Homo sapiens: one gene and its partners. The protein of the gene in region 1 purifies or fractionates together with the protein of each later gene. This does not show direct contact. Each region holds a gene or a part of one and is shown on either strand. Other genes may lie near its edges.

The links.
Region 2: the proteins of SPINK7 (region 1) and ZER1 purify together in Homo sapiens (affinity purification with mass spectrometry; 2 studies listed by BioGRID and IntAct, with this or other methods). This does not show direct contact.
Region 3: the proteins of SPINK7 (region 1) and SMPX purify together in Homo sapiens (affinity purification with mass spectrometry; 2 studies listed by BioGRID and IntAct, with this or other methods). This does not show direct contact.

What each region holds. Positions count from the first base shown.
Region 1 is NC_000005.10:148,307,883-148,315,506, reverse strand, and holds the start of SPINK7 (serine protease inhibitor Kazal-type 7 precursor), read right to left. Parts: upstream 3,085-7,624; 5' UTR 3,024-3,084; coding exon 2,963-3,023; intron 2,134-2,962; coding exon 2,108-2,133; intron 1,408-2,107; coding exon 1,283-1,407; intron 1-1,282. UniProt on the Homo sapiens protein: Probable serine protease inhibitor.
Region 2 is NC_000009.12:128,733,928-128,741,091, forward strand, and holds part of ZER1 (protein zer-1 homolog), read right to left. Parts: intron 6,961-7,164; coding exon 6,845-6,960; intron 6,193-6,844; coding exon 6,004-6,192; intron 1,505-6,003; coding exon 1,407-1,504; intron 1-1,406. UniProt on the Homo sapiens protein: Serves as substrate adapter subunit in the E3 ubiquitin ligase complex ZYG11B-CUL2-Elongin BC. Acts to target substrates bearing N-terminal degrons for proteasomal degradation with the first four residues of substrates being the key recognition elements.
Region 3 is NC_000023.11:21,755,117-21,762,366, forward strand, and holds the start of SMPX (small muscular protein), read right to left. Parts: upstream 3,001-7,250; 5' UTR 2,826-3,000; intron 1-2,825. UniProt on the Homo sapiens protein: Plays a role in the regulatory network through which muscle cells coordinate their structural and functional states during growth, adaptation, and repair.

The DNA of each region.
Region 1 (7,624 bases):
TGAATGACCTTGCCAAAGCACATTCTGACAGAGGAAGAAGCAGAATTTCCCTAGTCCAGTGATAATTCCACCCCTCTGCTGCCTCCTCTGATTCCAGAGCCCCACTGACCACCCAGTGTCTTAACACAACAAAGAAAGAGTACTCTGACAAAATTGAGAGGGCCTGTCTCTCAGCTTTTCCTGGTCAGCAAGTCCTTTGACGAAGCTGGATCCTGCATTAGTGAGGAGGACTTTCATCATGTTTCTCTCCAGTGTCCCTTGAAAACAGCTAGTTTCCTGGCCAAGGGCTAGTTTCCCAGTCTGCCTATGTTACAGAATTTTCCCTTTTGTGAAATAAAACCTCCCAAATAGGAATAAATACATAGACATGTCCTTTTGGGCTAAGGGCTTGTTGTTCTCACTTGTTAAGATAATCACAAAGATGAAAACGCAAGATCTAAGTGTCCAAAATCCAGTGGCCTAAAAGAGTTAACGATGATCACAGCAGACTTGCTATGAGACAGTTAAGTGTAATTTGCATGTCTTGTACCAAAGAAGTGACATCTGCCTAGCTACATTTCTGCAAAAACATTTTGTGGGCCAAAGAAAATACCTAAACAAAACATGTCCGTGGTATTCTGGTCCAAATACTGACAGCTTGCATCCCTTATTTTAGATAAAGGAAAAGTAATCATTTTTGTAGCCTTATTCCCCCCTTAAAGCTACAGATACTTAGAGCCTCTAGAAATTCGAAGATAAAGAACCTCTAGGGACACTTTGTCTAAGAATCAAGCTGCAGTGAGGATGTTAATTATCTTAGAATCTAAGTCAGGTAGTGTAGTAGTTTTCAATTATTTTATGGGGGGTGGGGATTCAGGGCCCTTTCTTCAAGCATGATATTGTATGGCACTCCACTACTTAAAATAGTCAAAGCTGAACTTTATGTTGTCAACTACCCCAAATAGTCCCTTTAACCCTAATGGTGACTCCTGACTTGCCTCTATAGAACCTCTGTGCTCTGGGGACAGCAGTTTGAGAATCCACAGCCTTACTGGATTCTCACAATTGACAGACAGGAACTGGAGGTTCTGTGATGGGATGGGACTAGTCCAAGCTGGCAGAGCAGGTGACTCTACCCTGTCTGATTGTGCAACAGTCAGTTTTCTATCCCCACCTGCTGTTCTGGGTGGGAATAATTATAAATTACAGCTTATAGAGATTTAAGCTGGATCCTGGAAAGTAGAAGCGTTTGTAGTAGAGAGCACTGACTCCAGATCTCATTTTCTTCTTATGAGGTACTCACAAGCTCTCGGTACACAAGTGACATTCATTCCCATAGGTGATGTAGTCAGAACCACAAACTGGTAGGTATGTGATGGGGCAGGGGATGGCCACCACTGGATACTTCTTGTAAATGCTGCAGTCCACCTGTGTCATATACAAGCAAATGTCCTGTTTTTCTCCCAGACCCCAAGCTAGGCCACTATTAGATATACTACAAGGGCTGGAAGTCCCAGCTCAGATATTCAGATGTTGCTTGGCCACTTCTTTAAGTACTAGTGTTATCACTATGACAAATACTAGCACTACTGGTATTCTATTTTTTTCTGCTACACTCAGTTAACAATTGCTGGGCATTTCTGGGCTAGGCGTTAAACTTAAATCTTGCATGAATTTTCTTGTTTAATCTTCAGAACAACTAGAGTAAATTCTACTATTACCTCTCTTTACAAATGTGAAAATTAAAGCTTAGAAATAGAGATAACTTGTTGAAGATAAATGCTGGTAAGTAGTAGAGTTAGGATTTGAATCTAGAGCCTGTGCAATTTATCAGGGTACTTTTGCTCTGCCTTTTACACGTTATGCCTTTTATGAAAACATCACCAACTTCTCAGCTGGAAGGCGGTTCTCCCTTCTTTAACTCTGGCATTTTTAAAAAACATTTTTAAAATATGGTTGTTTATATGTATGTCATATTTGTTTAGTTGCCTTCTGGAGAACAGGTACCATTTCTCCATGTGTGTTTGCCTCCCTCTCGAATCCCCCTAAACATAATTTATCCTACATATATGTTGACTAAATGACAGTCAATAGTTATTGACATTAAAATGTTATTCAACATACTTACTTTTTTTGGAGACAGACTAGCAGCTTCTGAAAAAGAGATACAGATGAAGATGTTAAAAGTAAAGCAAACTTTAAATCTCATTAATTAATATAAGTTTCATCCTATATAATTACTCTACATTTCCTTTAGCAATGAGATTCAGCACACTCTCCATCCTTATGCAAAATCCTAGTTGTTTGCTGAGGAAGTTGAATGGCCAATGGGTTAGGTTAACCCTTGGTTTAGGTAAGAGAATTATAAAAATTTCCTCTATTTATTGATCATGGAATGTTTTCTGAACCTCATAGTGTTTTTGATAATGGCCAAAGTCAAGTAGCAATAAGAAGTATTAAAATCATCACTCCTAAGAGCCTGAAGGATCATCTCTGATATCCTTTCCTTCCCAATTGACATAAAGAAATGCAATTGAATGTCTTTATGTGGTTGGAAACACTTTAATTAATTTTTCACAGTATAAAAGTCTAATTGTTGACCCTTGGCTTTTTGAGACTTGTGTTTTATTTTAATCCCCCCAAACTGATTTGGGAAGACATCCAAGTTTTTCTGTATCTTTGCACTAAGAAATGGTATATCTAATAACACTGACAACTTCCAGTGTCCATATGAACATAGAAATGGAAGACTTACAGAGAAATTAGATCATTTTTTGTTCTATGGATGCAAATAAGAATCCTTGAAAGTGAAGACATTGGACTCAAGTCTCTCAAACTCCAGATGGAACATAAGATCCTATTACAAACCAGTACACTTTAAATTCTTACAACCAGATGTTTCTGAGATGCTCACATCGCAGGAGGGATTATTTATGAAAACAATCTTAATGGCTATATAGGGCACTGTCTGACCTTAACTTACCTGAGCTGCTACAGAAATAGACCACTGTACAGAGCAGAAGGAGACCCCCAGTGATCTTCATGCTGGAAATGGCTGTGGTGTAGAAGCTGCTCTGAGATTGTCACTACAGCTGCATCGACCATATCCCAGGTAAGGGGTCATGTTTATATATATGCAAGGCTTGGTTTCTCCGCCTTTCCTGTGAGGTCATCCAGAGGATCTCAAAGCACGGTGCCACACCCTGGGCTGTGTTACAGTCCTTGTTACTGAACTGCCACTTCTTATCTGACCAATGATTTGATTATTTGAGGTAAGAAGTATTTTCTATCTTCCCCAAAGGTGGGACTGTTAAGAATTCTAAACTTCATGAACTAGAAGAGACTAAGTATGAGCTTCTTGACTTAGTTATGAAATAAGTGAAAATCTCAAACCTCCTTTATTTTACGAAACTGGAATCTATTAAACCCCGATTAGACTGATTACACCTACGTTTATATCTTGGCACCTGGGGAAATATTGTTTATTTTTGAGGCAATGAACCAATGAAGCAAACTGGGACCTAATGGAAGGAACACTGACATTAGCATTTATGAGGTATGGAGAAAAGCACTAACATAATACTTCTGATATTTTCTACCTGTATAATCTTGGATAAGTCGTTATATGCTGTGAGCCTTTATCAATCCAAAAGGCTTGGTTATGTCGTGATAACATGTAACCACAAGATTTCTGTGAATTAAAACAAAACTTTGTTTCTTACTCAAGCTACACTTGTATGGTAGTCAGCTGTTCATGCTACATTGCCTTCACTGTGGATGCCAAGTGGGCAGAGTCATCACTATTTGGAACACTGTAGTCAAGGTGAAGTGAAGTTGAGTTCGTTCTCAAGGAGTTCTCATTTTAGCAATTAAAACTTCCAGCCCAGAGCAATACTGCTGTCACTTCCCCTCATGGTCTCGTGGCCATCACATGCTTTGTTATGTATGGAGTGAGTGCAATCAATCTGATGTGGTTTAGCTGTGTCTCCACCCAAATCCCATCTTGAATTGTAGCTCCCATAATTCCCATATGTTGTGGGAGGGACCTGGTGGGAGATAATTGAATCATGGAGGCAGTTTCCCCCATACTGTTCTCATGGAAGTGAATAAGTCTCACAAGATCTGATGGTTTTATAAGGGGTTTCCCCTTGCACTTGGCTCTCATTCTCTCTTGCCTGCTGCCATGTAAGACATGCCATTCACTTTCTGCCATGATTGTGAGGCCTCTTCAGCCATGTGGAACTGTGAGCCCATTAAACTTCTTTTTCTTTATAAATTACCCAATCTTGGGTATGTCTTTATCAGCAGCTTGAAAACAGATTAATACACAGTCTTACCTTGTCCTGACCTGTTCCCTGACCTGAAGGTTGGATGAAGAACTAGAATAGTTGGCAAACAACAGAGACCATCCCAGAGACTGAGTTTCATCCCAGTCCAATAGGGCCTGTTGTTAGCCACAATAGAGTTCACATAATTGGAATCATATACATAAAAGTCTGCTCTAAAGCACAGTGCATTTAATAATATTATTGTGATTGTTATTATTATTTACAAACCAAGAGTTAATGCTATGAGTTGCTGACATTAGATTGTAAACTGTATTGTCCATGCACAACTGTCCAAATAGCTGCAGTTTGCTTATTGAGTTTAAGGACATATGTATGAAGACCTGGGGGAAGGCAGTAGACTGTCCCACTAGTTTACTGCTTGGCAGGTTTATTTTAGTACATTCTAAAACTAGCATCTACAAGACATATTAAGTGACTAATAAATGATATTGCATAATCTCTAATATTTTACTCCTATATCTGTTTGGGAGGCAATGTAATCTAGTAGTTAAGAGCATGGGCATTGAGTAGATCCCATTTAGAATCTTTCTTCTAAAAAATGTTGACTGTGTGTCTTTTAGTATTTAGGTTAACATCTGATACTTTAGTGTCTTCATCCTTATGACAGAAATAATATTTACCTCATAGGTTGTTTTGAGTGTTAAATTAGATTTTACAGACACACACTCTCTCACACACACACATTATACATTCAACTCTTGAACAACATGGCGTCCGGGGTGCTGACACCACCACAGTTGAAAAATTAACATACAATTTTTTTATTTTTCAATAATTTAACTATTAATATCCTTAATATCCTACTGTTGACCTTATTAATAACATAAACAGTTAATCTACACGTTTTGTATGTTACATGTATTATACACTGTATTCCTACAACAAAGTAAGCTAGAAAAAAGAAAATGTTATTAAGAAAATTGTAAGGAAGATAAAATATATTTACATTAATTAAGTGGAAATGGATCATCATAAAAGTTTTCATCTTTGTTGTCCTCATCTTGAGTAGACTAAGGAGAAGAAGAAAGAGGAAAAGTTGATTTTACTGTCTCAGGAGTGGCAGAGGTAGAAGAAAATCTATGTATAAGTCAACATGTGCAGTTCAGACCAATTTTATTCAAGGGTCAACTGTGCATATAATCTCTTATGGATGCATGTCTGTGAGGTGTCTGTGTGGTATGCTTGTGTGGTTTGTATGTATTTGTGTATTAGGGCACCAAGCTCATAATTAGATCTTGATATATGGTAGCTAATAATATGGAATGTGCTCTTTATAACAACTCATTAAGGAAGGAGTTTTTGTTACCCTAGTTTTGCCAGTGAGTAAGTTAAGACTCAGAGGATTTAAGTAATCTCCCAAGGATCATGATACAATTAATGGAGGAAACTGCTGAGTTCAGTCAAGGAAAAGAAGCAAAGTGAAGGTTCCAATAAGGAGAGGTAATTGTAGGTTTCATTGTTTGCCATGAATGTTTGAAAAGAATGAATCCTAAGAAAAAGCCATTGTGTTTCAAGATGAGGTATCTTTATTGCAGTTTGAAAATGTGCTTTTATCAAAGAGGAGTGGGAATAGGGTCAAAGGGTGGTCAAAATGGTGGTAAAAGATAGGATCACAGATTTTTTTTTAAATTTTTGATAGTCAAAGGAGGAATGGAAGAAGCTGAGGCTACAGAAAGATCTAGGATAGACTGAGCATGTCTTAAAACCAAAGAGAAGAAGAAATTTTACATACATGGTAGAGAGTGGCTAATTAGATGCATGTAGAAAGATAGAAAATAAGGTTAAGAGCACAGATGAAAAACCATTTTCTCTGACACATGAGAGAGAGAAGAGTGGATAAATGTAGAGACAGGCATATTTTGAAGGGTAAGGAAGGAGAGATGGGGGAAGCCCACTGTAAGGTAGGCTCTAGTTGTTCAGTGCTGGTTTGCTTTTTTGCACTGGGAGAACTGGGTTCGTTTGGGAGCTTGAGACAGATGATAGAAGACTTGGCAGCATGTCAGATAGTCAGCAATGGATCTAAAGATTAATGGCCACTGGACAAGTTAGAACTAGATTTTAGAAGGCCCAATTAGTACTATTCCTCGTATTTCTCCCAAAGTTTGTGCGACACAGAGTGAGAAATGGGGAACAGTGATTTTATAGATAGGGAATGGATACATCAGAGGCTTGAAGATACCATAAAGACTGCATTAGGAGGTGGCAAAGCTTGAAAGAGAGTTAAATGTTCCAGAAGTTTCTGATGGGCTACACAAGGTACAGGCATTTAAGTGTTTAGAGATCAAGGTTTAGGCAAAATGTGGTAGGTATAGGAAATAAGAACAATTGTTTATTGAGACAGGGCTAGGAATCAAGTTGTCGGATACTATTTCTCAGGGGTGGGGCTGAGATAATGATCCTCAGGGTGTATCCAGTGGGTGGAGATAAACGTCTCTCGATTGAAAAGGATGAGGAAAGGTGAGGTCAAGGGATCAGGAGAGGGGTTGGTTTGGGTTTTGGAAGCCATTTACATAGAGAGGAAATTTTCCAGCCAGATACTGAGGCACAAATTATGGAGGAGGCTTTTAAAATGAGAGTCAAAGCCTGTGAAGATAAAAGCAGTCCATTTCAGGATAGTTTTTTCATTTATCCTTATAGTTCTCCAAGGAGAAAATCTTGAGGCCTTGTAAGAGAGAATAACTATGGTCCTGGTTTCATCATGAAGAAGGCAGAATAAAATTAGCTCTTTTCCCATTTAGAAAAAAAAAGTGCAGCTTGCTGCCGGCATTCATTTATTTTTACATAAACATGCTCTTTGAGGCTGAAGTAAATCTAATTTTCAATGTGAAAATAAAATACAAAAACTGTTCTTGGAGTTATTTCTAAACAGAACTTATCTCTAATCCTAATGTAACAGAAATGTAAATGATGATCAGTATTTAGTAGTTTTTTTTTAATTTGGTAAATTTCAAAGCACAGAACAACACAAAGCAGAACATCATATTATACACAAAAATATTCCGTTTCTCTCCAGATCTTGCTATGCTTGTCATTGTGTAAGCAGCAAACTTGCAGTGACCAGTTGGATTCCACCCCCCTGATGTTGGTGGTGTGCTCTTGGGGAGATGTCTTCCAGACAGGCAAAGAAGAGTGACATCATCAGAGCATGGACGACCTCAAAGATATTCCAGCTATGGTCTGTGATATTTTTCCAGCATTCTTTCAATCGATGTCAGTCTGAAGTTTACATGGCTAATTGTGTGCTCAGGATTGTCCTTCTTGAACAGGATGTAGGAGTCCAGCACTGTAATTTTTAG
Region 2 (7,164 bases), on another chromosome or scaffold:
GACCATCCTGGCTAACACGGTGAAACCCCGTCTCTACTAAAAATACAAAAATTAGCCAGGCATGGTGGCGGGCGCCTGTAGTCCCAGCTACACGGGAGGCTGAGGCAGGAGAATGGCGTGAACCCGGGAGGCGGAGCTTGCAGTGAGTCGAGATCGCGCCACTGCACTCCAGCCTGGGCGACAGAGCAAAACTCCGTCTCAAAAAAAAAAAAAAAAAATATATATATATATATATAAAATCTTAAAAAAAATATATATATATATATAATAGATATAATTTTTTTTTTGAGACAGAGTCTCACTCTGTCACCCAGGCTGGAGTGCAGTGGCACGATCTGAGCTCACTGCAACCTCTGCCTCCTGGGTTCAAACGATTATTTTGTCTCAGCCTCCCTAGTAGCTGGGACTACAGGCACGTGCCATCAAGCCCAGCTAATTTTTGTATTTTTAGTAGAGACGGGGTTTCACTATGTTGGCCAGGGTGGTCTCAAACTCTTGGCCTCAAATGATCTGCCCGTCTCAGCCTCCCAATGTGCTAGGATTACAGGCATGAGCCACTGCACCCGGACTAATTTTTTTTTTTTTAAGTAGAGACAGGGTTGCGCTGTGTTGCCTGTGCTGGTCTCAACCTCTTGGGCTCAAACAATCCTCCCACCTCAGCCTCCCTAAGTGCTGGGATTACAGGTGTGAGCCACTATGCCTGGCCTCCAGCGCTCATTCTATGGAAGATGTCACCCAAACCAGTGAAACCAGTGGCTCCTAAAGATGGTGATCCTTTGAGGAATTTCTGTAAAAATATAGATTTCTAAGCCCTGTCTCTGGATATTCTTTTTCAACAAATCCAAGGACTAAGATTTATCTGTATTTTTACCAGGTGATTCTGGTGACCTGCCAGGTTGGAACCAGCTGATGGTATGTGTTTTTTTTTTTTTTCATGCAGACAGCATGGAGACTTTTATTTTACTTCTGGAGATGGGGGTCTCACTATGTTGCTCAGGCCGGAGTGCAATGGCTATTCACAGGCATGATCATAGGTCATTGCAGCTGGAAACTCCAGACCTCAGGCAATTCTCCTGTCTCGGCCTCCTGAATAGCTGGTGTGCACCACTGAGCCCAGCAGGCATGGAGATTTTGGACTGTTCCTGCACATGGAAGCGGGAAGCATTAAGAAAGCTGTCTAGGAACTCTGCACAGGTATTTCGCCTGCCAGGCCTGCTTCTGGTGATGAGGCAGGAGTGAGCCCTTAAGCTGGGTGTCCCACAAACGCTGGAAAGTGGAGGGTTCTGCTCTGAGGCACAAAAGCTGACAGCAGCAATTAATGCCCCCCTCCTGGACTACAAACTCCCTGAGGGCACATCTGCTTTCAGCTGGATGAGTGTCTGAACCCAGGACAAGTTGGCACTCACGGTAGACAGACACGAGGTTATACAGGGCCCAGGTTGCCCAGTGCTGGCTGACAGGAGAGATTCCCTGGGGAAGGAGGCGGAGAATTGGTTCAAATGACCTGCAGGAAAAGAAATCAAGGTCACTGTGGATGCTGAGGGTGGGGAGTGTGTCTTTTCTTGTCTGAGGTTTCCTCCCACTGGAGAATCCTAGTGACCAACCATGATAGGCTGGCAGGATGCCAGGGAGAAGGGACAGCTGGCCCTGCATCCCACTGGCAGGCTGCACAACAAGGTTCCCTTGGAGAGGATAAAGGCACAAGCACATGAGGGAGGCACAAGGGACCCAGATTAGGAGGAGCAGAAAGCTGGAGACCTCAGCAAGGAGCAGAGACCCAGCCTGTGGGGAAGAGGGGAGAGGCACCCTGGGAACAGAAGCACGTGTGACCTGGTTTTTTTTTTTTTTTTTTTTTTTTTTTTTTTTGTGAGACGGAGTTTCGCTCTGTTGCCCAGGCTGGGGTGCACTGGTGCAATCTCCACTCACTGCAACCTCTGCCTCCTGGGTTCAAGCGATTCTCCTGCCTCAGCCTCCTGAGTAACTGAGACTACAGGGGTGTGCCACCACACCCAGCTAATTTTTGCATTTTTTTTTCTTTTGAGACAGAGTCTTGCTCTGTCGCTCAGGCTGGAGTGCAGTGGCATGATCTCGGCTCACTGCAAGCTCCGCCTCCCTGGTTCACGCCATTCTCCTGCCTCAGCCTCCCGAGTAGCTGGGACTACAGGCGCCTACCACCAAACCCGGCTAATTTTTTTGTATTTTTTAGTAGAGACGGGGTTTCACCGTGTTAGCCAGGATGGTCTCGATCTCCTGACCTCGTGATCCACCCACCTCAGCCTCCCAGAGTGCTGGGATTATAGGCGTGAGCCACCGCGCCCGGCCTAAATTTTGTATTTTTGGTAGAGACAGGGTTTCACTATGTTGGCCAGGTTGGTTTCGAACTCCTGACCTCAAGTGATCCACCTGCCTTGGCCTCCCAAAGTGCTGGGATTATAGGCGTGAACCACCATGTCCAGCCCTTTTTTCTTTGTTTTTTTTTTTTTTGAGACGGAGTCTCACTCTGTCGCCCAGGCTGGAGTTCAGTGGTGCAATCTCGGCTCACTGCAACCTCTGCCTCCTGGGTTCACATGATTCTCCTGCCTCAGCCTCCCGAGTAGCTGGGACTACAGGTGCATGCCACCATGCCCAGCTAATTTTTGGTTAGAGCATCATTTTGCTGTTGGCCAGGCTGGTCTTGAACTCCTGACCACCCGCCTTGGCCTCCCAAAGTGCTAGGATTACAGGCGTGAGCCACCATGCCTGGCCTTTTTTTTTTTTTTTTTGGAGAAAGGGTCTCGCTCTGCTGCCCAGGCTGGAGTGCAGTGGCATGATCACAGCTCACTGCAGCCTTGACCTTCCAGGCCATGCAAGTGTTCCTCCCACCTCAGCCTCCTGAGGAGCTGGGACTATAGGTGTGAGCCACCATGCCTGGCTAATTAAAAAAAAATTTTTTTTGGCCAGGTGCAATGGCTCACACCTGTAATCCTAGCACTTTGGGAGGCTGAGGGGGGTGGATTGCCTGAGCTCAGGAGTTTGAGACCAACCTGGGCAACACAGTGAAACCCCGTCTCCACTAAAGTACAAAAAATTAGTTGAGCATGGTAACGTGCACCTGTAATCCCAGCTACTCGGGAGGCTGAGACAGGAGAATCGCTTGAACCTGGGAGACGGGGGTTGCAGTGAGCCAAGATCACACCATTGCACTCCAGCCTGGGTGACAGTGCGAGACTCCGTCTCAAAAAAAAAATTTTTTTTTTTGTAGAGGTGAGGGCTCACTATATTGCCCAGGCTGGTTTCAAACTCCTGAGCTCAAGTGATCTTCCTGCCTTGGCCTCCCAAAGTGGCTGGGATTCTAGGTGTGAGCCACCGCATCCGGCCTGTGACTGCTCTTCTGACGAGGGCCTTCTGTGGGCCAGCCTGGAGTCATGGTCCAAAAGCCTGAAACACGTGTGTGCAAAACTCCTGGGCCAGCGATTCCGCTTCCTTTCTCCCCAAGAACTATAGTACTTGGCACACTGGCAACGCTACCAATGTCAGCCTGTTCCTCCCAGTATGGGTTTTCAACTGAAATGTCCATCTGTACAGGATGGCACAAAGAAAGTGACTCCGTCCTAAAATGACGAGGGAGATCCATGCCTGGTGATTGGCCAGTCAGTCACAAAACAGTAGGAATTGATGCCAGCTTGACTTAAAGTAATGAAATCTGTGCATAGAAACACTGCTGGAAGGAGACACACCAAAATGTCAACAGGAGTTCTCTTTCAGGGAGTGAGATTATGAACGATTCTTGTTTTCTTCTTCTTCTTTTTTTTTTGAGATGGAGTATCACTCTGTTGCCCAGGCTGGAGTGCAGTGGCGAGTTCTTGGCTCACTGCAACCTCTGCCTTCCAGGTTCAAGTGATTCTCCTGCCTCAGCCTCCCAAGTAGCTGGGATTACAGGTGCCCACCACCATGCCTGGCTAATTTTTGTATTTTTAGCAGAGATGGGGTTTCACTGTGTTGGCCAGGCTGGTTTCGAACTCCTGACCTCAGGTGATCCGCCTGCCTCAGCCTCCCAAAGTGCTGGGATTACAGGTGTGAGCCACTGTGCCCGGCCCTGTTTTGTTTTCTTGTTTTTTTTATTCATTTTTATTTTTATTTTTATTTATTTATTTTTGAGACGGAGTCTCGCTCTGTCGCCCAGGCTGGAGTGCAGTGGCGCGATCTTGGCTAACTGCAAGCTCCGCCTCCCAGGTTCACGCCATTCTCCTGCCTCAGCCTCCCGAGTAGCTGGGACTACAGGCGCATGCCACCACGCCCGGCTAATTTTTTGTATTTTTAGTAGAGGTGGGGTTTCACTGCGTTAGCCAAGATGGTCTCGATTTCCTGACCTCATGATCTGCCCGCCTCTGCCTCCCAAAGTGCTGGGATTACAGGTGTGAGCCACTGTGCCCGGCCCTGTTTTGTTTTCTTGTTTTTTTAATTTATTTTTATTTTTATTTTTATTTATTTATTTTTGAGACGGAGTCTCGCTCTGTCGCCCAGGCTGGAGTGCAGTGGCGCGATCTCGGCTAACTGCAAGCTCCGCCTCCCAGGTTCACACCATTCTCCTGCCTCAGCCTCCCGAGTAGCTGGGACTACAGGCGCATGCCACCACGCCCGGCTAATTTTTTGTATTTTTAGTAGAGGTGGGGTTTCACTGCGTTAGCCAAGATGGTCTCGATTTCCTGACCTCATGATCCGCCCGCCTCTGCCTCCCAAAGTGCTGGGATTACGGGTGTGAGCCACCGCGCCTGACCTTCTTCTTTTTTTTAAAGAAATGGTCTCATTCTGTCCCCTAGGCTGGAGTGCAGTAGCATGATGTTGGCTCACTACAGCCTCGACCTCCTGGGCTCAAGTGACCCTCCTGCCTCAGCCTCCCCAGTAGGTGGGACTACAGGTGTGCACCATCACACCCAGCTCATTTTTTTTTTTTTTTTTTTTTGAGATGGAGTCTTGGTCTGTTGCCCAGGCTGGAATGCAGTGGCGCCATCTCGGTTCACTGCAACCTCTGCCTCCTGGGTTCAAGCGATTCTCCTGCCTCAGCCTCCTGAGTAGCTGGGATTACAGGTATGTGCCACCACGCCAGGTTAATTTTTGTATTTTTAGTAGGGACGGGGTTTCACCATGTTGGGCAGGCTGGTCTTGAACTCCTGACCTCGTGATCTGCCCGCCTCAGCCTCCTAAAGTGCTATGATTACAGGCGTGAACCACTGCACCTGGCCTGATTTTTAAAATTTTTCGTAAAGAGGAAGTCTCACTATGTTGCCCAAGCTGGTCTTGAAATCTTGGGCTCAGCTGGACGCAGTGGCTCATGCCTGTAATCCCAGCACTTTGGGAGGCCGACGTGGGCGGATCACGAGGTCAGGAGATCGAAACTATCCTGGCTAACACGGTGAAAACTCGTCTCTACTAAAAATACAAAAAAATTAACCGGGCGTGGTGGCGGGTGCCTGTAATCCCAGCTACTCTGAGGCTGAGGCAGGAAAATGGCGTGAACCCAGGAGGCAGAGCTTGCAGTCAGCTGAGATTGCACCACTGCACTCCAGCCTGGGCGACAGAGCAAGACTCTGTCTCAAAAAAAAAAAAAAAAGAAAAGAAAGGAAATCTTGGGCTCAAGTGATCCTCCTGTCTCAGCTTCCCAAAGTGCTGGGATTATGGGCAAGAGCTACTGTGCCCGGCCCACCTGTATGGTTTTCTGTTGTGTGTCTATTTTCTCCCCACCCCTCCCCACAAATCAGTAGGTATTAGTGGTTTGCAAAGAGCAGGCTTTGGGTACATGCAGATGTTGGCATGTATGACAAATGCTCCAGGCTGCACGGATGAGATCGTGCCCTTATGTATGCTCTGTGCTGTGTGCGGCTACGTATCAATGAGTGAAAGCAGAACCCTACAGAAGACCAGAAGGAAGGTGGGAGCTCTGAGCAGACCTTAATGGTATGAGCATCCTGCCCAGCACTTACCCCATATTCCACACCGCATCCCCGCTCCCTGCCCTGCCCACACCTGTAATTGATGTTTCTCCGAGAGTTTATGTCCCAGCTCTGGATGGCAGCCCACATGCGTTCCTCCACCTCCTCACGCTGGGGCTCACAGACGCCCCAGGCCTCGGGTCCATCAAACATGATGTGGGAGAGGACGCCGCAGGCATTGTAGGAAACCTCGATCCCATCGGCCTTGCTCTCCAACAGGTTGCTGCCAGGAGAAAGACAGAAAAATGGAGTCCCACTCCCCCAGTTTCTCTTCAGATACCAGCGGCAGGACCCCAACTTAAAACCAGAAGCAAGAGGTGCTACTTATTTCTTTATCCCATATCGTCTATATACCCAGACTACTTCTAAAGGGATTTGAGGTCATTTAAGATATAATTACAGGCTGGGCGCAGTGGCTCACGCCTGTAATCCCAGCACTTTGGGAGGTCAAGGCAGGTGGATCACGAGGTCCGGAGATCGAGACCATCCTGGCTAACATGGTGAAACCCCATCTCTACTAAAAATACAAAAAAATTAGCTGGGCGTGGTGGCAGGCGCCTGTAGTCTCAGCTACTCGGGAGGCTGAGGCAGGAGAATGGCGTGAACCCGGGAGGCAGAGCTTGCAGTGAGCCTAGATTGTGCCACTGCACTTCAGCCTGGGTGACAGAGCAAGACTCCATCTCAAAAAAAAAAAAAAAGATATAATTACAAAAGGACCACTTACGAAGGATTGAATGAATAAGAAACCACATTATCGAGGGAAAATGACATTTATAGCAAACCTAGGCTAAGAGCAGTTGTGCAACTGAGCAAACGCTAGAGCTCTGAGCATTGTGGCAGCTAAGGCAAAAAGGGAAAGGATTAAAAATACCAACCTGAAGACGCTGATGAACTGGGAAGTCATTAGTTGAGGCCTCAGCTCCTTCACTTCTGCCACATTCCCCAAAAGTCCTAGCATATTCCTATGCAGTTCCTGCTTCTCTGGGAATTCCTGGGAAAAGGAGAGCCAATGGGCCGCATCAATTAGTACTTAATGACTTAGTATCTGGTATTGTTAACCAAAAAGCTTCATGGGCATCTGGCCATGCCAACTAGACAAAGAGGGGGCATATATGCTGCCCTCCTACCCTCCAATGCTCCTAGGTCAGTGCTGGGTACACACACTAAGGAATTAAAGGGGTGGGATTGCTTGCCA
Region 3 (7,250 bases), on another chromosome or scaffold:
ATGCGGGATGCAATTTACTGGGGATAGGGGAGAAGAGAATGGTCTAGCTCTGGCCTGTTTTTGTAGCTAGGCCTATTAAATGTCAGCAGGACCAATTGAAAAATTAAAAATTCATTGAATTCAAAACATGCTGTGTTTTAAACCCAAACTGTACAACAGGTTGATTGAGGTCTATTGACTGGTGTAAGTGGTGTGTCCACTGGTGAGTAAAAGAATGCAAAAAGCAGTGTTGGCATTTGCCACACATCTTGTGTAACCTGGGCAATGTCACTCAATATTTCTAAGCCCATTTCCTCTTCTTTAAATTTTACCTGCTTCACAGGTTGTGGTAAGAATCCATATTACATACATGCTCCTGAAAAGGCCTTGTGAACTGTAAAGCATGATGCAAATATTCATTGTTTACTACCATCGTCCATAGCTAATGACCTTGGAGTGCTGTACTCATCTCCAGCTTTAAGTTCAGAGTAATAATTTATATAGGTATGTTCCCCAACACCTGTAGAGATAAAAGATCTGAAAAGAACTCTGTGAAAAATAAGTCTTTTGAAATCTCTAAAGTCTTAGGCTCTATTATGTGAAGTTAAACAATTCCATATTTTTTAAAAACCTCTATACTCAGGGTATCCAAATATATAGTTTTTGGAGCCACATACATGAAAACAATAGGACTCTTTTTAAAGAGTTTCACTTGAATGTCTTTGTAACATATAGATTTAGCCTCCATGCATAAGGGTCTAGGTAGAATTATTTTTAATACGGTTACAAAATTAAAAAGCAATAACAAATGGAACAGTCAAGGATACATTTTTCTCTGTGATATGTTTCAAATAGATTGCTGTCTTTCCTGCAGTGTCATAAAGAAATGAAGGATTTTTAATTTGTGGATCTAGGACATACAGCTTAATTCCAAAAAGAAAAGCTTCGTGGCTTAATTTTTAACGTTTTTATTCTTCAAAAGCTGTTAGAAGTCATACAAAGCAATAATTTTCACAGAACTTTAAATATCTCAGCATATGGTATTCTCTGTGTGTGTACAACTAAAGTTTAATATCACTTGGGAACTTGTTAAAAAAATTATTGTACATCAATTTGAAACAGGGATTAGAAAATTTCTTTATGTTATGACAATAGCAAGTTGAAATGTTTTTTAAAATTAGTCAATGAATGATTGTTATACTGTATTTTTTTAAAAACCAATTTTATATTTTCAATGGACTGATTTAACTTACTACTGGATTGCTGTTTTTGTGTGAACCTCTGAGCCTCAAGAATGGATGGGCCTCGTCTCCTGTATTTTTGGTAGATTCTGATTTGCATACAAATCTCTTAACATGCATGTCAATCTTTGAAAGAGAGATCTATAGAAAGCTGGTCAGATCCCAACTCTCATTCCTCACAAACAGGCTGGATAACATTTGTGTAAATCAGTTCAGCAGCGGTTCCTGCTGTCCTCATTATTTTCAGAGAAATCAGGGCAAAGCATACTGATGAATAAAAATAGACAGTGTTCCCTGTTTCCCTGCCCCTGCAGTCACCTCTATCAGGGATGTAGAGTGCGGAACACACCTTCCTTCTTCATCTGAATGCTTCATCCCGGGACCAAGAAAAGAAAACTACACCTTAGATACACACTCCACTCCCACCAGGGCCACTGCTTTTCGTCCAAAGAGGTACTCTTTACAGCACTCAATTACTACGTCTCCTGGTTCTGGCTACAGTTTTGAAACATGGAAAGTTTGACAAGGCATATATTGACTTTTACAAAGCCTATAGTATAATGAAAATGCTTGCCAGCTAAGCACCGCTGAGTTTTCCTGGCAGTTCTGTAAGTCAGTGGGGACCATTAATGGTCTGTATGCTGAGTCACCTATGATATATCCCTGCTTGTCTTTGATTGGGCAGCACCTAATATCTGACTTCTAAATAGAACTCTTTGACTTACTAAAAATTTGTCAATAGTAATATCACTCATTTAATAAGAAGGGATTCAGAGGAAAATCAATCACTATTCAGAGATAAGAGCTTTGTTTGTTCTTTTTAAAGGTCGAATAAGTGGGTAAAGCTCCATCGCAAAGGGAATTATCTTCTGTCCTGCAGCTAAAAATAATTCCTGAGAAGGGTGTAGAAAGATGTTCAGCTGTCTGAACTGACTAACTCCTTATTCACTCTGCTTTAAATATGCTGAGAGGAAAGAGGTACTCTTAGCGTTCTCATACTTCAGAACCTGGTGCCCACATAGAAAGGGACAGTGAGTGCTGCCCTCTACCCTGCTGAGTATGGGAATACTGTGACCAAAGTGAAGATTTAAAAAGATGGTTCTATCATTGATAGAACGTTATCATTGAGACCAAGCCTGGTGCTTAGGGAGAGGAGAAAATCATTTTAAACTTGTACTGTATAAAAACTCTGGCAATAATTTGCATTTTGGTAAATAAAGGAACTAGCATTATAGCTTCTCTCTGGCCCAAATTCTGATGATTTCTTGGCTTAGGGCTTCAATCAATCTGCAGCTGACCGACTGTAATCCTGGCCAGCACAGCTTCAAGGTCACAGTTATCATTTCTAGACTGTGGACATTTTATTGTTGCCACTATCGATGAAAACTGCCTTTCAGTATTTGCCTAGTTCAATATTCTTTCAGCACCCTCACCCCTCACAATTTATAAACAGAATCAGCAATACCACCAATGAAAAATGAATTTACAAGGAAGCTACACCCACTGGTTACAAGCCTACAAAGTTAAAAGTAGTCACTTCGAGTTAGGTATCAAGGAAATTTCCTTTAGAAAACCCAGTCGCCGGAGCTGCGTCCTTCTGCTTACCTGCTTTATGTATTTGTTTACTGCCTAAGGGAAGTCCCAGGCAGCCAGATGCAAGAATACAAAGCTCCTTGGAAGGTGGAAGGGGCGCCCGGTGTCCTCTGAGCTGCGATCTCAATTCCGATGCTTTTCATGTGGCTGAAATAGCTCTGTGCCTCTCCCGGTATTGAGAACTGCTCCTGGCTCGGGGCTGGAGGGGAACTTAAACCGTTAAGGCTAAGTGTTAAAGAGAATTCCTGTCATAGCTCACAGTTGTTCTTCCTAAATATAGAGTTTGATACAAGCCATACGCTGGCTGCCTCCGAAAGGCTTGACCGTGCGGAAAGCAGGCTCAAATGTCAGCCGGGAGGTGGCTATGGTATCTTACTTGCCCTCCTAATCTTCCAGAAGATGCTGGCTGCATTTTCTCATATATTCTGAGTGGGTATAGCAAAGTTCGAAAAGTAAGGAAAGTCTATCTTTAGCTTTATTACCTGGATGCCAGAAGATGAGTATTCAATAAAAATTGGGGGGTGTCAGCATGGTACCATGCCTCTCAGCAGGGGTACTGACATTAAACAGGGTTTGAATCCTAGCTTGGTCACTTGGGAGCTGTTAAAGTTACTTAATAATAAGTACTCAACAAATAGTCACCAAATGATGATAATTATCCTAGTAAGTTGAACTATATGACATTGCCCTTTTTGTAGGTCAAAAATGGTCCAAGATTGACAGGCTGGTGAGGTTCCAGGGCCTACAGCCCTGCCCACTCTGCTCTACTGCCTCTACTGGTGACAAAGATTTTGACCTTAGAGTACGTGAGACAACAGAACAAAGAAGAAATGTCTATTTTAAATATGGCAAGGGTCAGGAGCAGGTACAAGGCAAAACATTTTTTAAACAGAAAACTTCCAAATCCTAAGATACATGCTCACTATTTTTAACACCACTTTTAATTTTTTTAACCTCTCCACTCTCTGAAATTACCTTTACCCAGAGCTGTACTTCAGTAGAAGTATTAAACAGAGTGGAGAGACTTAAAATCCATCCACTGTGGAAGTGAGCTCCATGTCTGAGTTCTTGACAGCATGGTCAAGCCACTGAACTATATTACCAGCAACCATCGCTTACCAGTCTTCTTGTTACATGAGGAAAAGAAGCAGCTCCAATTTGTAGGAGCCCTAGACATCAGGCTTCTGTTCCCTGTAGCTGAATGCATTCCAGATGGAAGTAGTTGGGCTTTTTTCAGAACTGTAGAAGGAAAACCAACTTTCTGGGAGTTTAGGAGGTCAACAGATAATTGTGGTTCATTTTAGATTGGGGTTCACCATTAACTTCTGTTTAGGTGTTGTTCAAAAGAATTGTATCTTTAAAATTCAGTTTAGACATCATCCTTTGAGATCACATGGTGCCAAAAGTGAGTTATTTATACACTGGAGAAGAGAATATAGTGAGCACCTTAATATTTCTCCAGGTTTTTGGCTACTTCTGTGTGTTCAGAGCTCTTCACCAGACAAATGATGGCATCACTCCATGGACCAACAATGAGCCATTTTTGGCCCCTTGTCCTGAAGTTAGACCACACTTTCTGCCACAGTCCTTTTGCCCCGGTGGCCCCTCAGTAGCCACTGATGGTGTATATGTTGAGGAAACTGCTCCTGGCAGAAATGCCTTGTACACAGGGCTGGCCCAATATGAGTGTGGCTGCCTCTGTGGGAAAAACTAAAGTGAGCTGCATAACCAGGGCTCTGTTGGTCATAAGTCACAGTAACCCAAAGGGAACCAGTTTAAGCCAAGAGGGGTGTGGCAGACAGTCAATGCCTTTCTCAGTATCACTTCTGTCCACCTGAGTTCTGTAGTTGTAGGCAGCTTCCAGTATACTGTCAGCTTCACACCTCTCTCTTTTTCTCTACACTGGGACTCTGCACATCATCCAAAAGCAGGAGACATAACTCATAAGTGCCGGGAAACAACACCCCTAGGGATAAGCCTCAACCAATGGGAATGGAAGTTGAGTGATAGATGTCCCCACTTCCTCATCCTGTGGTCGGAATATTCTGAGGTGTGATCTACAGTTTCCCAGAGGTCCCCAGCAGGACTGAGCCCCAGTTGCCCACCATGGGGATTTGCTCATTAATATACCCTTATTGGCTTTCTCTTTTCCCTCACTTCCCCCACTCCCTTGCATTCTCTGGGATCATGCCCCAAGTAGATCACCTGCAACCAAGTCCTTGTCTCAGCATTTGGAGTTGAGGCAACCCGAACTAAGAAAAAGGAATTTATTAGGAAGGTTTCACATTGCAAGAGGAAGGGCAGGGCTGCAGGTGAACCTCATCAATAACCAGAACCAAGAACTCAGACCTCACTAGAGAGTGATGAATCTATTTCTGCAACTGCAATTTTAAAGACCTCAGGACTCTGGTTGCCCCAGCCTGAGTCAATACCGCACTCCTGGTTAGCGACAAGGTTACCGAGCACAGAGGAGGCCATTGGGGTACATACCTGTGCATTACGTCCTTCCCAGAAAGGGGAATAGTTCTGAGCTGAGCAGCTCTCCCAGTTGGGTCTCCAAGAGGCACCAAGAAGCCAAGTGCTTTTCCTTGACTTCTTGCAATAGCCTGAAATGTGTACTCCTATTGTCACGTTATTGGTTTAAGACTCCACAAAAACACATGTTGGCTGGTGCGGTGGCTCACGTCTGTAATCCCAGCACTTTGGGAGGCCCAGGCGGGCAGATCACTTGAGGTCAGGAGTTCAAGACTGGCCTGGCCAACATGGTGAAACCCCATCTCTACTAAAAAAATACAAAAATTAGCTGGGCATGGGGATGCGCATCTGTAATCCCAGCTACTTGGGAGGCTGAGGCAGGAGAATCGCTTGAACCTGGCAGGCGGAGGTTGCAGTGAGCCGAGATCATGCCACTGCACTCCAGCCTGGGCAACAGAGCGAGACTCTGCCTCAAAAACAAACAAACAAAAAAACACATGTTGTTTGGCAAGGGTAACAGAAGAAGTCTCTGACACACACCTACACATACCAGGTTGGTGAGTGACAATTAACTGGGCCTGAAGGGATGGGGCACAAGATGAGTCCATTTCTTTTTGAGAGGATTGAGATAGGAGGAGAAGTTGGAAAAACATAGCCTTAAAGTATGGAAAATGGAGAGCTAGAGGGTACTGGGCATTGAGGGGGTAGCTTGAGTCCTTTGGGCATATTTCAGTGGAGATCACAAAGAGGGGTATGGTGGCGGGGGTGTTGACAAAATCGAAATTCACTTAAGTCATTCCTACCTGCATGCCTTCATCCCTCCTCCACTATGGTCAAAGAGCAGGATATCTAACAACATCTTACATCTATGCAACCCTTGCTCAGTTGCAATGTGCTTTCATTTGTATTATTTTATTTAGTCCTCCCAACAGCCCTGTGGGTTCAGTGGCATTCTTCCAGTTTTATCGATCAGTAAGCCAAGGCTCAGACTATCATTTCAGAGCCAGTTATCCCCAGCTTTTGACTCTCAAAGTTAGTGCTCTTTCCTGTTATACCACAGTGCCCTCAAGGAACCACACTCATCTGTATGCCCCACATAAGCACATACAAATATGGTAACAGGATGCATCTGCTTGCAAGTTAACAGAAAACCTAACTAGCAGTGGCTCAATCAACAGTCATTTGATCATCTCACAAACCTAGGAACTTAAAGGAAGGTAGTTATGGGCTGGTTCGGAAATTCTACGAAGTCAAAAACTCTCAGGCTCTTCCCAGATCCTCTTTGGGAAGGAGGATCTACTCTGCCACTCTCAACAAGTCAGCTTTTCATCCTCATGCTTCTTAACTTATGTTCCCAAGATGGCTGCCACAGCTCCAAGTATTAGGACATTTTACGAGCATCCAAACAAGAAGGAATAGCAGTGATGGTGGGAAAAGGGGCTTTTCTTCTCAAGGAGGAAACTCTTTCCCAGAAGCCCCAAGCTGACTTCCCCTCACATCTCTTTGGCTGGAACTGGGTCTCGTGGCTGCAAAGGAGGCTGAGAAAAGAAATAAATGGCAGCAGGTGAATGGAATAGAAATGATTAGCTAAGATCAAATGTCCCATATAAAATTGGGATGCTCTTAGCAATGAAGAAGAAAGGAAACAGCAGTGACACAGACAAAACGTGCACACACATACAGAGCTTTAATGGAAAATGTGCTTCCAAACACATAATCTCATTTAATTCTCACCACCTTATGAAGCAGGTATTGTTTGTTTATCTCCACTTTATAAATGACAAAACACACTGGAAAAGGTCAAGTCATATGCCTAGGAAGTGGCTGAGTCAAAACTCTAATCTAGGTCTGCAGGCTCCAAATTCCATGTGTTTCCCCTATTCTTCCATGCACAAACCAACAGGAGGAGCCAGGCTGCTCATACCATTGTCCCATCTGTGAATGCCCTCTTGGCATGTGCCC